Regions from separate parts of the Homo sapiens genome. Here region 2 is linked to region 1. The links come from fine-mapping of genetic effects on gene expression. Tissue or cell type: whole blood. Region 1 holds a variant in brackets; the other region holds the start of a gene. All regions are shown on one strand. Distances are from middle to middle.

Evidence for each region. PIP is the estimated chance that this variant, and not a neighbour inherited with it, causes the effect.
Region 2: SMUG1 starts here. The variant in region 1 is fine-mapped to the expression of SMUG1 in whole blood (INTERVAL, PIP 0.98).

Annotation. Positions count from the first base shown.
Region 1 is chr12:54,140,012-54,148,114 of GRCh38, forward strand. SMUG1-AS1 (SMUG1 antisense RNA 1) reads left to right here and starts at 2,591. Exons shown (of 2, transcript XR_007063322.1): 1 at 2,591-2,810. The variant C/T (reference allele first, on the strand shown) is at 4,760.
Region 2 is chr12:54,184,153-54,192,255 of GRCh38, forward strand. SMUG1 (single-strand-selective monofunctional uracil-DNA glycosylase 1) reads right to left here and starts at 4,833. Exons shown (of 4, transcript NM_001243787.2): 1 at 4,799-4,833; 2 at 3,667-3,750. It overlaps LOC105369777 (a long non-coding RNA gene), which reads left to right and starts at 4,945. Exons shown (of 3, transcript XR_944984.2): 1 at 4,945-5,050; 2 at 6,296-6,382.

The DNA.
Region 1 (8,103 bases):
ACAGAGCAAGCAAGACCCTGTCTCTAATAAATAAATATCTGACCATGAAGGTGAGCCTTATGGGCAATAAGTTTCAGGGGCAGAAGAAAGTGCTGTCACTGAGGGTCCTCCCAGGAGACTCCCAGAGGCGGTCAGATAGGAGCTATCCTTGCAGTTTTAGAAAGGCTGAGAGCCCATCAGAGGCCTCCAGGCTGCTAAAGAACCATCCTACGGGTTGTCCTTTGTTTCCCCCAGAACATTGGTCATGGGAGGAATGGGCTCCAGCAGCAGCAGGGTAGCATCACCGAGCACCTGCTCGCTGCCAGGCACTGTGCTGGGAACTAGGAACACAGAGAAGAACAAGGAGGTCCATGTCATCAAGGCACCGACAGTCTGGATGGGGAAAGAAACCACGGATCTTTACAAAGCAAGGTGAAAAGAACCAAGACTATAGGTACACCTAGGGCACCGGGGGAGCACCATGCACACACCTAAACCTCCCTGGGAAGGGAAAGGAAAGGGTCATGGAAGTCTCCCTGAAGGGGAGGAGTATGGAAACTATAAGCAAAATTATATGCAAATGGTGCCCCTTTTTTCTCCCTACACTCCTCCCAACTGAAGGTGACCTTCCACCCCAACAATAAATCCTTAGCTTCTTAAACTAAGGTTACAGTGGGGTGTCAACACCCCAACCGACTCTCACTCATCCTCAAATGATCCAAATCTGAACTGGGATTCCAGCCAGATATGGGGTGCCTCCCTAACCCATGTGCCCCACAGTCGATCCCACCCTGCCAGCATCATGACCAGACACTCTATGATTCCTGAGACAGGACAGAGCCTGGGGAACAGGGAGGGGAGCGCCTACTGTCTCCTGGAATTCACATACCCTACAGCCTTCCTCTTTCATGCCCCTGTGTGTGGAAGATGCCCCTGTTCCCCACCGCTCTCCATCTGTGATCTGGCTCCTGCCCTCCTCCTGCTATAGCTGCTCCTCCTCCCCCCTTGGAAGAATGCACCCTCCCCTCAGCTTTCCCTCCACAGAGGCCAGAGCAGGAGGGAGGCTGCATATGGCCCCGTTTTCCTTGGCCTGGGTAGGCTATTTTGGAAGCGAGAACCCTCCTTGCCCTTTCCTCCCCTCTGGGAAGCACCGTCCCTCCCCTCTCCACATTCCCCAGAAGTTCTCAGACTGAGATCCGCCCTACGTGCAGTTATGTGGTGAAATCACTGCTTTCCTCCCCGCCGGAGGCGCCAAAGCTTGGAAGGGAGGGTACTCAAACCTTTGATGTAGGCACGTTTCAGAAGGCCCACCTGTCCCCTCTCTCCCCAGCCCCCAGCCTGAAAGGCTGGAGCCCCTCATCACAGCTTTCCTGCCTGGATTAGCTGGGGGTAAGATCAGGTCACACACACTCTATCCCGCTGGGGGCAATCAGGCCCAACCACACTCGGGGACATCTGTCTCCAGCAAATAGGGGGCAATCCCAAATTTGAGGGGTTCTGTGACACTTAAAAGCTTCAAGCAGGAAGTTCTGCAATTTCTCTTGGACCAGGGCCTGCGGGGAGGGTCGCTCAGAAACCCTCGTTTGATGTTGCGCTTTCATGGCTGTGGTTTGATCCAGATGTTCCCCAATTGTGGGATTTTATTTTTGGGAGGGAGGGGCCCTTGGCTATAAAGGCATTTCCATCATGTGCACATTTGGATCTGGGCCTGCTGGGCGGGGGTGCTCTTCCAGCTCTCACTAACCCCACCCTTCCCCCTAGGATCATATCCTTTCCCTTCACATCCAGAGAAGAGAAGAGGATCCATAAGGGGGCATTCCCAGCTCCTTGATGGTTTGCTGTGTGACTGTCCAAAAATGTCTCTACATCTCTGTTTTTCTGGCACCATAAGCTGAAGTTGGTTCCTAAAGATGGTTCCCAGGTCATGGGAGGAATAGGACAGGGAATTCCAGAACCAAATTTCTGTCTAAGAAAGAAACAATTATCTAAGAAATTGTGAGTGGAATTGGACTGAACGTGGATGAGTCAGGGCTCTTGAAAAAGAAAGTGGCCGTCCCTCTTTGAGTCAGTTCTGCAAGAGTGGACAGAAACTTTTCCAGACTCCCAGGCCTCTCTGCTCCCTCAGAGCTTGAAAAGATTAAAGTCATTCCTCCTCAAGGTCTTCAGTGAAACCCTGGAAATCTTTCCTTCAATTTTAAGAGATTACAGTTCTTCCCATTGTCTAGCCTCTGTCACTACTTGCTGTAGCATGAGGTGGCTTCCCTGGGGGAAAGTGTACCAGTCCCGCTCATTGGTCGTCTAAGACCTCCCAGCATTCCTCAAGACATTTCTGCCTCATGATGTCAGAAGAAGGGCTGTCAAATAGATTTTAAAACCCCAGGCTCGGCCAGGCACAGTGGCTCACGCTTGTAATCCCAGCACTTTGCGGGAATCACGAGAGCAGAAGATCGAGACCATCCTGGCTAACACGATGAAACCCCATCTCTAATAAAAATACAAAAAATTAACTGGGCATCCTGGCAGACGCCTGTAGTCCCAGCTACTCGGGAGGCTGTGGCAGGAGAATGGCGTGAACCCGGGGAGGCAGAGCTTGCGGTGAGCAGAGATCACACAACTGCACTCCAGCCTGGGCAACAGAGCGAGACTCCATCTCAAAAAAAAAAAAAAAAGACTTGGCTCCTCACTTGTATTGTGGGAATCCCAGCCTAAATTGGACATGTGGATGTTGAGCAATAGAGGACAGACAAACAAAGGAATCTCCAGACCCTGCAGGACCCAAGGCAGCAGCCCACGAGTGGATCCTAAAGGATTTTCATCAGCTGCAAGTCTGGGTAAGTGGGCTTTTTTTGGGGGGAGGGGAGAAGCAGCCTGGGATGCTTCTTGCAGGAAGAGGAGTTTCAGAGGAGACAAGAGAGGTTAGGAGCCACTGAGTGGGTGAGGAGGGCCTAGCCCAAGAGGCTGGGGACAACCACGAGAGGCGGGCCAATGGGAGAAGAGGGCACTGTTCCTCAGCGGACTAGGTAGAAGGAGGGGTTGGAGAGAGGTGGGTGCAAGGAAGGAAGAAGGAGGATGGGGAGCTCCCCGTGGCTGCCCCACCTGAAGAATTTGAGCAGCTGTTCCCAGCTCCCCCTTGCTCTGTGTAACATCAAGCAAATGCACGGTGGGGGATCAGCTTTTCCTCTGAAGACCTCAGGGCCAGTTCTCAGGCCTCCCCCTCCCTATGGACTTTAATCCAGTCCAGCACAGATGGATCAGGTCATGATGGTGATGGGGGTGGTAGCATTGGGTCTCCCTGGCTTGAATTTTTTCTTATTCCCCCATGTCCTCTCCTCCTTAGGTGATAATTTATCCTTTCGCATGGTCTTACATACTTCACATGTCTATAGCTCAGAGAACTAAGAAGCACCTCATCATTCTTAAGTTGGGCCTTGCTACCTGCAGGCCCCTCCCCTCCCACACTTACCTTCACACGACTGGGGCAAGTGGTTAGCTTCCCCACGGCCCCCCCAGCCCCTCTCCTCTCCAAGACACCCTTCTTATCTTTCTGACTACAATTAGAGCCTCCTCTCCCTGTAGGGGAGTGAGAGGGACAAGGTCAAGGATCCTCACAACTCAATAACAGCTGTAGAGCCTCACCTATCCTGTGTACTCACAGTGACTCCATGCAGGGGACCAGCAACAAGGGGAAAGGGAGTGGGAGTTAGTGTGGGGACAGGGGAGAAGCATGCATCGGGATTCCCTGCCTGGTCTAGTCTGGTCTGGGAGCAGGGCAGATGCTCAACAAGGCATCCCAGGTCTCGGGGAGCGGCTGGCAGTGGTGAAACACCAGCTCTCTCAGGGCACGTGAAAGTTCATGTTTCCCCTCCCTCTCCTCTCTCCCTCCCACTCTTCATGACTGGATCCAGGGAAGGACACACCTGTCACAAGTACTGCCCTCATCTCTCCCTGTAACTCCACCTCCACCCCCCATACCCACTTTATCCCTCTGCAGGGTTACTAGAGCCTGACCAAAATTCTCTACTGACCAGAGACAGACAGACAGACCTGTTCCCTGTTCCCCAACTTCCAGTGGTGCTGCGCATGGAGACGCTGAGGTGGGACCCAAAGACCTGCTCCCGTCTTCTCTCCTTAGGGACTTGCAGAAGCCCCTTTCTCAGAGTCACCCCTCCCAGGATGAGGTGAAGAGGCTGAAAAGGGAAGGGCCATAATGCTAAGGCTGGGGCAGGGGACAGCGGCGCCCTCCATGCACTCTCCTGATTAGTGCAGGTAAACATAAGGGTTTCCCCCAAATGCGAGGGTTCTGCTTCAGTGCCATGGAAGGCCCCACCAGCACCTGCTGCCCCTCCTGTTCGTCCTCCCTCTCTTCAGCCCCACAATTACCGAGAGCGAGTTGTTGAGGCAAGCTCTACCCCAGGCCTGCGTTAAGAAATTTGGGTGGGATAGGCCGGGCGTGGTGGCTCACGCCTGTAATCCCAGCACTTTGGGAGGCCGAGGAGGGTGGATCACGAGGTCAGGAGATCGAGACCATCCTGGCTAACATGGTGAAACCCCATCTTTACCAAAAATACAAAAAATAAGCCGGGCGTTGTGGTGAGCGCCTGTAGTCCCAGCTACTCGGGAGGCTGAGGCAGGAGAATGGAGTGAACCCTGGAGGTGGAGGTTGCAGTGAATCGAGATCGCACCACTGCACTCCAGCCTGGGCGACAGATCGAGACTCTGTCTCAAAAAAAAAAAAAAAAAAAAAGAAATTTGAGTGGGAGAATAGAGGTAAGAGACATTT[C/T]CTTAGTGTTTACTGCAAACCCTGCCAGGCTAGAGGTGCCATAATCTGCCCTGTATCAGATCCACAGAGTCATCCCACCAAAACCCCCCCCAGGATGTATGTGAGACCACTGGACTCATTGGCACTGGCAAATAAGAAGATGGCCAGAAAGCAATCAACACCGAACGCCCACTGCGTGCTTGGCACTGGGCCAGACTCTGCTGGGGGAGACTGGAGGAAAGGCCCATTTCACTGGTCTTGAGCTCTACATACCATGTTAAGCCAGAGAGGTACATATTACAAATACTGGAGACTCTCATGCTTGAGTATAATCCTATAATCTTATACCCACTCCCATTCAGACGTGTGGTCATATGTGAATGTCAAGCACACAAGCTAGACAGAAGAAAGAACTTCCCTAGGTTGTCAGTACTGTAGAGTAAAATCATCAGACTCGAAGCCCTCATTCTCGGAAGGTGATGAACTGGGAGAGCCCCCGCCTTGCTGGGCCAGGGGTAAAATAAGGCTCCTGTCTGAAGGCAGGGGGATGGTTGAGATGACCCCTCAAGATGCTACCCAGGAAAAGGCAGAGAGGTAAAGTTTCCAGTAGAGGGGCATGAGAAGGAGGGACAGACAGATGGATGGAGGGATGGAGGAGTGCAGGGAGCAGTGCTGGAGAGATGAATGGTCTTGGCTGGACTGATGGGCGAGGCCAAGATGGATGGATGGCAGCTGAGGTTTGTTTACTGGCAGCCCCCAGCCCGCCATCGCCCAGGGGAGAGGAATGGTGGCTGGCACATCAGAGGGCTCTTAGGGAAGCTCATGGAGATGATTTAGATGGGAATGAATCAGCTCCATATGGATTAAGTGTCCCCGCAAATCCCAGATCTTACAGATGAGGGGATGGGGCAAGGGCACTGAGGGGAGGGGAGAGAGTGGGGAAGCAGCGTGGAGCTGGTGCAGGGAAACACGGTCCTGAAGCCAGGGGAAGGGCACCCTCAGAGGGCATGGGGCAGGTCAGCCTGGCACAGATGCAACCCCTGCCTTGGTCTGTTGATACCACTGTTCCTCTTGCTTGGTACCAAGCTTTAGGAAAAGGCCTCCTTCTCCACACCAAACCAACTGTTGGAGTGTCCTTTCTGAGTCCGTTTTGGTCTGTCTCCTCTTGCCTCTGTCTCTTGTTCTCTCTACATCTTCATCTGTCTTTCATCTTCATTTTTCTGTCCCTCTCACTACCTAGCCTTCTCTGTGTTTCTGTCTCTCTCCTTCCACATTCCCCCGCTTTCCACACTCCCACACTTTCCATCTCTTTCTCTAGAGGTATAAATGGTAGAGGGATGCTGCCAGTTTCTCTGAACGTCAGCCTTAGCTCTGCCCTCCTCTCCTGGGGTCAGGTCTGATGCCTCCCTCCCTCTGTACTGTTCTCTCACACAGACCACAAGTTTGGAGGTGGTCAACAGAACAGGGAAGGTGGTCAGAAAAGTGACTTTTTGGCTACAGAAAGTTATTTGTGTTCCTCTCTGCCACCCTGCCCTCGTGCCTTCAGCTGTCCCTTCTCCCAGTGCCAGAGGAGGCTTGGATTGAGCACCCATGCTCTATGGACAACAGCAAGTTGAGCAGACCTTAACATCATTCCCGGGGAGGCAACGGGTCATCTGCTGGCTGGGGTTATCAAAGGCCCCATCTCCTACTCCTCTCCCATGCCCCACAGTGAAGAGCCCCAGAGCTGGCTGTGGTTATGAAGCCGGCTGCCATGTGGGCGACCTGGAGTCAGAGCACGGGGCAGTCACATATGACAATTGGTTGAAATATCACAGCCACTCTCCCCCCACCCCCACTGGTGATCTATGGGCTGCGTGCCCTGTAAAAATTATTTATCGGGGCCTCAGAGTGTCCTGATTTAGTGCCGCTGCCTCTGGGGCCTTGGGGCCTGCCTGTCCACCAGAGTCTAAGCGTTAAACGACGCTAAAAAGTTAAACAGCCAACGCTGGGGGCTCACTCGAGGAGGCACCATAAAGCTGTCGGAGCTGCTTAAATCAGGAGCGAGGATTCCCTGGGACGTCTTCTCTCCATACGCCGCAAGCCAAGAAGGCTCTCCTTACCCCTCTGCCACTCACCCATACCCAGAAGCCCACAGAGGGCAGGGGACACGTGGGCCGGGGGCCTGGAACAGAGCCCAAAAGGAGGCCACGGATGACCTCCTCTGCAGGGCTTTCTCCAGCAGAACAGGGGCCGTGGCTCAAGAGGGTAGGGGTCATGTTGTCCAGCTCACCAACTCTGGGCAGGGGTCTCCTTGTTCCGGTCCAGTTTTTAAAGACTTCCAACAAAAGGCACTGCCAAAGTCTCTCCCAGGGGCCCCTGGGGAGAAGTTGTTTCCCAAGTCTGTCTCACTTCAATCCACGCTTCTGTGTGTTGAATCCACTGGAACTCAGTGTCTTCCCACTCAGGTTTGGAGAGGCTGTGCTGGCCACACCAGCCTGTGACTTCTTGCCTCCTTTCACCCCTCCACACCCACTTGCATGGCTCTCTGAGGAACAGAGCCCCACCCTTCCATCACCACCCTCCGCCAACGCACCCCTGGGTGCTGGCATAACACGCAAGCTTCACAGATGGCTTTTCTCAGCTGAAGCCCAGTCCCTGCTGCCACCACCCGGCCGCCGAGCAAGAGGGAAGGTGGGTCTCTGCATGCTGCCTATCACACCTTCTTTCAGCAGCAATAAAACTCACTCTTAAAACCTCCGCTTGGGTCCCTAATATTTGCCTGGCTATATATCTCCGATGATATATGGACAGAAATTGCTCATAAACGGCTATAAAACCTCTTAGTCAAGCCGGGGAGGAGGCGCATGAGGGTGGGCATGGCCCGGGCTGCAGGAGGATTGGAAGCTGAGCCACTCTGCTGAGCACCCCAAACTCAACTCTAGATTCCAGGGACCAGTGGCTGGGTGTGGGGCCTGACAAGGGTGGAGGAAGAAGACCCAGAGGAAGATCTTCAAGCCTCTCATGTGGTATTATGGGTCTGTCTTACCCGGGTGCTCCAGGCATGCGCTGTGTGGCCTTGGGCAAGTCACTCAGCCACTCTGTACCATGGTTTCCATCACCAACATGAGGATAATGACACCTACCCAGGCTCCTTCATTAAGTTGTCATGACAATCAAATGATACAAATTGATACAAATAATTTATCAATGCTTTGTAAAGTAGAGAGGTTGCATATATCAGGTGCTACCTCCAGATGGGCACAGTGCATAGAAGGCATACTATGTGCTGGATACTTTACTTAATTATCTCTAATCCTGACAACACCTGCCACGTAGGTATTACTGTCATCATGTTGCAGACAAAAACCCTGAGGTTCAGAGAG
Region 2 (8,103 bases), 44 kb after region 1:
ACTTCCATTATCTGTCCTCTTCACATGGCACCTGGTGAGGATAAGCCATAGCCACCAAACATCTCCCACTCCAAATCTCCTTTCCATCAGGCATAGGTCACTAGTTCCTGGGCTATGCCGAGCACATAGTAGGTTTTCAATAAACATTTACTGGTGGCATCCTTTCAGCACCTTTAAGGTCATCCTAAAAAAGAAAAGCCCAGCCAGAATGGACTGTTCTGGAAAGCACGGCGCTGAAGAATGAAATGCAAGTGCACAGCCACAGCCCAGAGACCTGGGAAGGCTAATTACAATAGCTTCCAGGTGGTGAGCGACTGCTCTGCACCAGGTACACCTCATTGATCCTCACAACAATCCCATGAGGTGGGTATTACTGCTCCCCTGTTATAAGTGAGGACACTGAGGCTTAGCAAGATTAAGCAACTTGCCCAAGGTCTTACAGTTAGTAAGTAATAAAGCTGGATTTGGTTGAGCCCAATCTCTCTGGCTCAAGGCTATGCTTTAACCACCCACGCCATCTTGCCTTAGATGGTTTGATCAGCCACCCTGCTAATTCTACAACCCCCTAACCCCAGCCTAGCTTCTTTCCCACACTCAGGAATACCGAGTAGGATGATTACAGACTCCTCATAGAATCTTACGAGCTACACAACCATGGCCAGAGCCTCAGGTTTCCACCTTCAAATACAAAGAATAATAATATCCACTTAATAATGTTGACATAAGGAAGGCCAGGCATGGTGGCTCATGCCTGTAATCCCAGCACTTTGGGAGGCCAAGGCGGCTGAATCACCTTAGGTCAGGCGTTCAAAACTGGCCTGGCCAACATGGCGAAACCCCGTCTCTACTAAAAATTACAAAAATTAGCTGGGCATGCTGGGCGTGGTGGCTCAAGCCTGTAATCCCAGCACTTTAGGAGGCTGAGGTGGGCAGATCACCTGAGGTCGGGAGTTCGAGACCAGCCTGACCAAAATGGAGAAACTCCCACCTCTACTAAAAATACAAATTAGTCAGGCATGGTGGTACGTGCCTGTAATCCCGGCTACTCTGGAGGCTGAGGCAGAATCATTTGAACCTGAAAGGTGGAGGTTGCGGTGAGCCAAGATCGTGCCATTGCACTCCAGCACGGGCAACAACAGTGAAACTCTCTCTCAAAAAAAAAAAATTAGCTGGGCGTTGTGGTGGGCACCTGTAATCCCAGCTACTCGGGAGGCTGAGGCAGGGAGAACTGCCTGAACCCGGGAGGCTGAGGTTGCAGTGAGCCAAGATCGTGCCACTGCACTCAAGCCTGGGCAAAAGAGCAAGACTCCATCTCAAAAAAAAATAAAATAAAAAATAAATAAATAAATAAATAAATAAATAAATAAATAAATAAATTTGCCGGGCGCAACAGCTCATGCCTGTAATCCCAGTACTTTGGGAGGCTGAGGCAGGTGGATCACGAGGTCAGGAGTTCAAGATCAACCTGGCCAACATGGTGAAACCCCGTCTCAACTAAAAATACAAAAATTAGCTGGGCATGGTGGCACGTGCCTGTAATTCCAGCTACATGGGAGGCTGAGGCAGGAGAATTGCTTGAACCAGGACCTGGGAGGCAGAGGTTGCAGTGAGCCGAGATTGTGCCACTGCACTCCAGCCTGGGCTACAGAGGGAGACTGTCTCAAAACAAACAAACAGACGTAAGGATGGAATGAGATGTTATGTTTAGGTGAAGGGAGAAAAGAAATGGGAGAGGAAGAAGAAAGGGAAGAGAGAAGGGAGGTGGGAGGAAGGAGAAGGGAGGGGGCAGGAACATGACAGCAAGCTTTGTAAACTGCAAAGGCCATTGCTTCACTCCACTCCCATTCAAACCCAGTGTTCCAACCTGACCATTCTACTCACATTTTCAAAATGCCTTTCCTGCCTCAACTCCCAAAACCTTGCACATACCATTTCTACAGTCCAACCAAATACACTCCTGAAGTCAACCAGGACATCATCCAGCAGTCATCCAGTCAACTAGGACTGTTGATTCCCCAACCTGTCCACATATCCAAATCACTCCCATCCTTCAAAATGCAGCTCAAACCATCCCTTTGATAAAGTCTTCCCTCCTCAGAACACTGCAGTATTTGCCATAGTGTCCCAACCCCACCCCCAACACAAGTAGGTCCCGTGTGAGGCCTGGGAATCTGTGTTTTTTGTTTTGTTTTGTTTTGTTTTTTTTTTGAGACAGAATCTTGCTCTGTCGCCCAGACTGGAGTGCAGTGGCGCGATCTCAGCTCACTGCAACCTCTGCCTCCCGGGTTCAAGTGATTCTCCCACCTTAGCCTCCTGGGTACTGGGATTACAGGTGCGCAGCACCACACCCGGCTAATTTTCGTATTTTCAGTAGAGACAGGGTTTCACCATGTTGGTCAGGCTGGTCTCGAACTCCTGACCTCATGATCTGCCTGCCTCAGCCTCCCAAAGTGCTGGGATTACAAACGTGAGCTACCGTGCCCAGCCTGGGAATCTGTATTTTAAACAAGCTTCCCAGGGTGATTCTGATGGTTGGTGAAGGCTGAGAACCACTGTGTGTCACCATGGTTACCGTCGTCTTAATGAATTCCTTTTGCCTCCCCAGCTAAACTTGGGCAGATCAAGAGCCAGGCCTTGTTCAATCTCCCTCCATAAGCCCAAGGTCCTGGCCCTTATTAGGTACTCAACAAACACCTGCTCAGCAATGTCCATCTTCTTTTTCACTTTTGTTTAAAACTACCTTCTGTGCTGGGCACAGTGGCTCATGCCTGTAATCCCAGCACTTTGAGAGGCCAAGGCAGAAGAATTGCTTGAGGCCAGGAGTTCAAGACCAGCCTGGCTGACATAATGAGACCCCATCTGTAAATATAAAAATAAAATAAACAGCTTTTACCAAGGAGGCACTCCTGATGGATCCTTCTCCACTTCTATATCCTGAGTTCACTCAAGGCTTAGCTGCCCACTTTGCACTCTGCTTGTTTTCCAGACTCTGGGTCTGTGCCCATCATATGTGTGCCTCCCATGCGACAAGGACCATTGTCATTCCTTCCTCTCAACTTTCTGCCTGGGTCAGGAGTGACTTCTCCAAGATAAGAACTCAAGGTTGACACAACAGCTCGATAAACCTATTTTCTCACCCTAGCCTAGGGGAAGTGGGAGAGAAAAGAAATCAGAGGCCCAACTTAGGAAGTCCTTCCCTGACTGTCTCAGTAGTCTTTAACTGATCTGTTGTCCAGGTGGCTACCCAGGACAAACTGGGCTCATACAAAAGCTGAGAAGGGTGCTGTGGAGAACGCCAGTGTTTCAGGGGACCTTGCTTTGCATCTCCCCATGCAACACCAACATTAGCAGATTGGCTGCTCCAGCTCTAGAATCTCGAGAAGTCTTGAGCCCACCTTTGACATTTAGACACCTGTGTTGGAAACAGCAAGGCTGGGGAAAAGAGTGGCAAGATACTACTTTCATTGTTCCATAACTTCAAAGCCTGATCTCATAGCAAGAGCCACAGGCTGGAAGTCAATTGATTTGAATTCTACTCCTGTTTCATCTCTAAGAAGGTTCTCTTGAGCAACTCATTTAACTCTCTTCTCTATGGAAAATCACATACTCCATCCAACCTACCACCTGTTAACTCATTTTTTTTTTCAATACTTATGAGTCTCTTACATGACAGGCACTGCAGCAGTCTCTTGATGAGGAAGAAATCCAAAAAGAGTAAAATGTAGGCCAGGCTTTCTGTAAGCTCATAATCTGCTGTGAGGGCAAATAAACAACTAACTGTAATACAGTGTGATGTGAGCTTTAATACCCGGAACAAAACACTAAGAGAACCCAAAGGAGGAACTTGTAAGTTCTACCCAAAGTCGCCCCAAGAGCCAGAGGCTTAAGAAATGTAGATATTTTATAAAATACGGTGTCATACTACATTAAGCACAAAGACAGCGGAGTTGGACCAAGCGATAAGGCTGACCACCAAGGGCCGACTTCAGACTGATGTCAGACTTCTCTGACATCAAATCCGGGAAGTGAGGAAGGAATCGAAATCACATATGCACTCCCCTGTCCTTTGGAGGCACTCCGGGAGTCCAGGGACAATAATAAATATCCTTAAACGAAATAATAATAATAATAATAATAATAATAAATAATAATAATAATAATAATAATAATAATAATAATAATAATAATGCATAGGCCGGGCGCGGTGGCTCACACCCGTAATCCGAGCACTTTGGGAGGCCGAGGCGGGCGGATCACGAGGTCAGGACTTCGAGACCAGCCTGACCAACATGGTGAAACCCAGTCTCTACTAAATACAAAAATTAGCTGGGCATGGTGGCGCGCGCCTGTAATCCCACCTACTCGGGAGGCTGAGGCAGAAGAATCGCTTGAACCCGGGAGGCGGAGGCTGCAGTGAGCTGAGATCGCGCCATTGCACTCCAGCCTGGAATTCAGAGCAAAATTCCGTCTCAGAAAAATAAATAAATAAACAATAATAATAATAAAGCATAAACTCAAAAAGACCATTTCATCTGGTTCCAAAGGGGCCGACTACTAAGGCACCATACAAAACCTCCGGGGGCGCCCGCTGGCTCCGGCCGACTGGAAAGCCTTGATCCTGCAGACCTCCCAGGCGGTTTCATAGGCTGGGCTCTCCCTGCACTGAGTCTTACCCCATACGGAGGGAGGGACCCCAAAATATAGAAATTCTAACCACCCTCTCGGCTCAGCCCCGACGACCCTGGGAGCCGTCAACTTGCCCCCACAGTCCCGGATTCCCAGCCCCCTACTTCCTCACCTGGTCCAGCTCCCCATCCCGTTTCCGGTTCCTTTCCCCCACCCCAAACCCAACCCCCGGCGCTAAGGACAGTGGGAGTCGTAGTCTACATTGTTTAGGGAAGGAGATTGGCGTACCCGCAGCCACTTCCGCCGGAAATGCTCCAATCCCGGAAGGCGCACTAAATTAGCCCTAAAGATCGCTGGGAATTGTAGTTTAATCTTTCCATCAGCGTTAAATCAGGAAGTCTTGAGAAGTGAAAAGCCACAGCCTGTAAGTACCTAGGAAATCCTGGGTTCTATCCCTAAAGGGCATCGCCCTTCCAAAAGTTCATTCACTATTTTCCCAAAGGGATTGCAAATCAGGAAGCTTCAACCATCCCCAATCCCTCACCCACCTGAAGGTATTAACAATAGCTAAAGACCATTGCTAGGCCCCCTGCCACCGTGGGTATAAGAGACTTCTCCTTTGCAGCCTGCCATTACTTATACAGAACATCCACGAAGACATTTCTGGTAGCTCCTAACAACTTTTTAGCAAGGGGCATCCCCCATTACTGTCCAAGCCCATCTCCAGAGTGTCACCATTTTGACTTCTTTCTCTGCCTTGCTATCTGCCCAACCCTATAACCTCAGTATTAGTCAAGAGTTTTCCAGAGAACAGAACTAACAGGATATCTATCTATATGACGAGATTTATTCCAAGAATTGGCTCACAGGATTGTGGAGGCCAAGAAGTCCCACAGTCTCCCGCTCTGCTGTCTATACACTGGAGAACCAGGAAAACAGGTGGTATAATTCAGGAAAGTCCAAAGCAGGGGAGGAGGCTCACTGCTAAGTCCCAGAGCCTGAAGGACGAAGAACCAGGAACTCCAATGATGTCCAAAGGCAGGTAAAATAGATGTCCCAGCTCATGAAGAAAGAGAATTTGCCTTCCTCCACTCTTTTGTTCTACTGGCCCCCAAGGGATTGGATGGTTCCCACCCATATTAATGAGGGTGATCTTCTTAGTCTACCAATTCAAATGCAAATCTCTTCCAGAAACACTCCACAGACATATCCAGAAATAATGTTTTACCAGCTATCTGGGTGTCCCTTAGACCACTCAAGTAGACACATAAAGTTAGCTATCACTCTTCCATCCAAATCTTCTCCCTCAAATACTTTGTCCAGGAAGGCTTCCCTGATCAATCCTCATCCCATGGCTGCACCTAACAGTCCATTCCCCCACCATTCCCCCATCCCAATATCTATGTCCAAATCTGTCCTATTCCTAGTTTTGTTCTTGTGCTCTATCTGGGTCTGGTTCTGTGTCGTGACTCTAAAACTTTCATTAGACTGGGAACCCCCTAAGGTTAGTTATCTTCTATATTCCTCCCACCCCACAATCTCCACACACCTTAGCACAGCCAAGGCTCTAATCACAGAAGCAAGGTCTCCCTGTGAGTGGTAGAAAAGGAGACCTATAAACCCCAGAACAGGAAGAAGTGAGAGAAAAAGGATGCTATTCCCTTCCCAGGACTTGTCTGATCTCCTATCAACAAAAACTTAATGGGTGCAGTAGGAGCTTCAGGGAGCTGTGAGCAGTGACCTGCTGACATCAAGGGTGAGAAACTACCCTGACCCTTGCAAGACTTTGGAAATGGAATTAATCATCCACCTCATGAAGCCCATAATTTCCTGAGCTTTAATTTTTACCAGATCCTCTCCCTCTCTGTGTCTCTCTCTGCCTATGTTATTTGCCCCTCTCTACTTATGTAAATTTATCTCTATTTCTAGTCTCTTGTGTAGCTTTCTCTCTGTATCTGCAGGTCTCTGTCTCCCTCTGTGAACATCTCCCTGTTTCTGCTTCTTACCCTAGAATGACTGGAATAAGAGAATCTGAGCTTCTAGAACAAGTTCCCCCATCTCTGTGTGTCTATGTATTTCTGTGTTTCTGACCAAAAATAAGGTGAAGGGACCTCATTGTGGTGTCATCTCATTGCTTAAAAATTCCAGGATTTCCACCATCCCTTGGACAACCCTCCTGTCCACCCCGACCCCTCTGTCACTTGCTTGCCCAGCACTTCTGTTCTAGTTTGTCATCTTGGCAGCCCCTCCACATTCAAAGTCTGCTTCTGGCAGAACAATAATGAGTGAAATGAGTAACAGGCAAGCAGAGATCCCCCAGGACCTCCACCTCCCCACCCCTGATTTCAATTTCCTAGAAGACTTGAATAACTGTTTCTGTCCCTATAAGCCCATCCACCCCAGGGAACCCAGAGATAGGAAGTCCAGATATAAGGAGAAACTGAGGCTTAGGCAGCCCACAGTGAGTCCCTACAGCCAATGTCAGAGGGGCCTGGGGCCTTCTCTCTCTCTAGTCCATGCTATTCCTCCCCGCCCAGTGAGTCACTCCCAGGAAAGATGGAGGTGAGGCGCTCTCCTGAAGTAGGCGTGCTTAGAAACAGGGACCCTGAGGCTTTCAAGAGATAGAGCCCAAGAGATGAAACATGGGCTTGGGTGCAGCCCTTCCAACCAGTCTCTTCCATTTATTAGTCTTCATGTCTTCTGGGAAGTCTTCAGGAGGCTGCTGACTGTGATTTACGGGTAGAGCCTTGTGGGGCAGGAACAGAAGATGACCCAGGTTATCGCCTGGGTAAGAGCCTAGAGAGTTGAGTCACCGGTCCTGGGGCAGGGCTCCAGGCATACCCACCAGCCAGCCCCTCTGTCCTGAGCCCGGGAGGGAAGGGGTTAACCGGCTCACTTGTTTTTTTTTTTTTTTTTTTGTTTCCTCGGGCTGCTGGAGCTGTGTTGGGCCATGAGCGCCATCTATCGGCCTCTTTGGGTCCTAGCTCCGACTCTGCTCACTTGGGCTGCTAGGCGGATCTTTCAGCCTTTCCCTTGCCTCGCCGCTTCTCACGGGGAAGGGCTGTCTAGCTGCGGGGCCTCCCACTGCACAAAACAAAGGTCGGGAATTGGAGAAGGTGAAGGCCATGTTTCCCCCTTCATAGATACTAAGTTTCACCCTGTTCAGCTCCCACTCACTGTTTCTGACATGGGGAGCCCCAAAGGGGGTTCTGGTGTTTAACTTTCAGTGTAGCCACCTTCCCCACTTCCACTACACTGGGTCCTGTCCCGATTAGCCCAACAAACATCAAAAGAGCATAGGACAGTGAAGACAGCATAGCAGAGGCCTCAGGACTTTGGGCTCTGGAATCAGACTGCTGCGTTTGAATCCAAGCTCTGCCACTTACTCATGGTGACCTTGGGCATGCTACTTAATTTCTCTGTGCCTCAGTTATCTCAGTTGTAAAATGGGATAATCATTGTAATCTCTATCTTCTT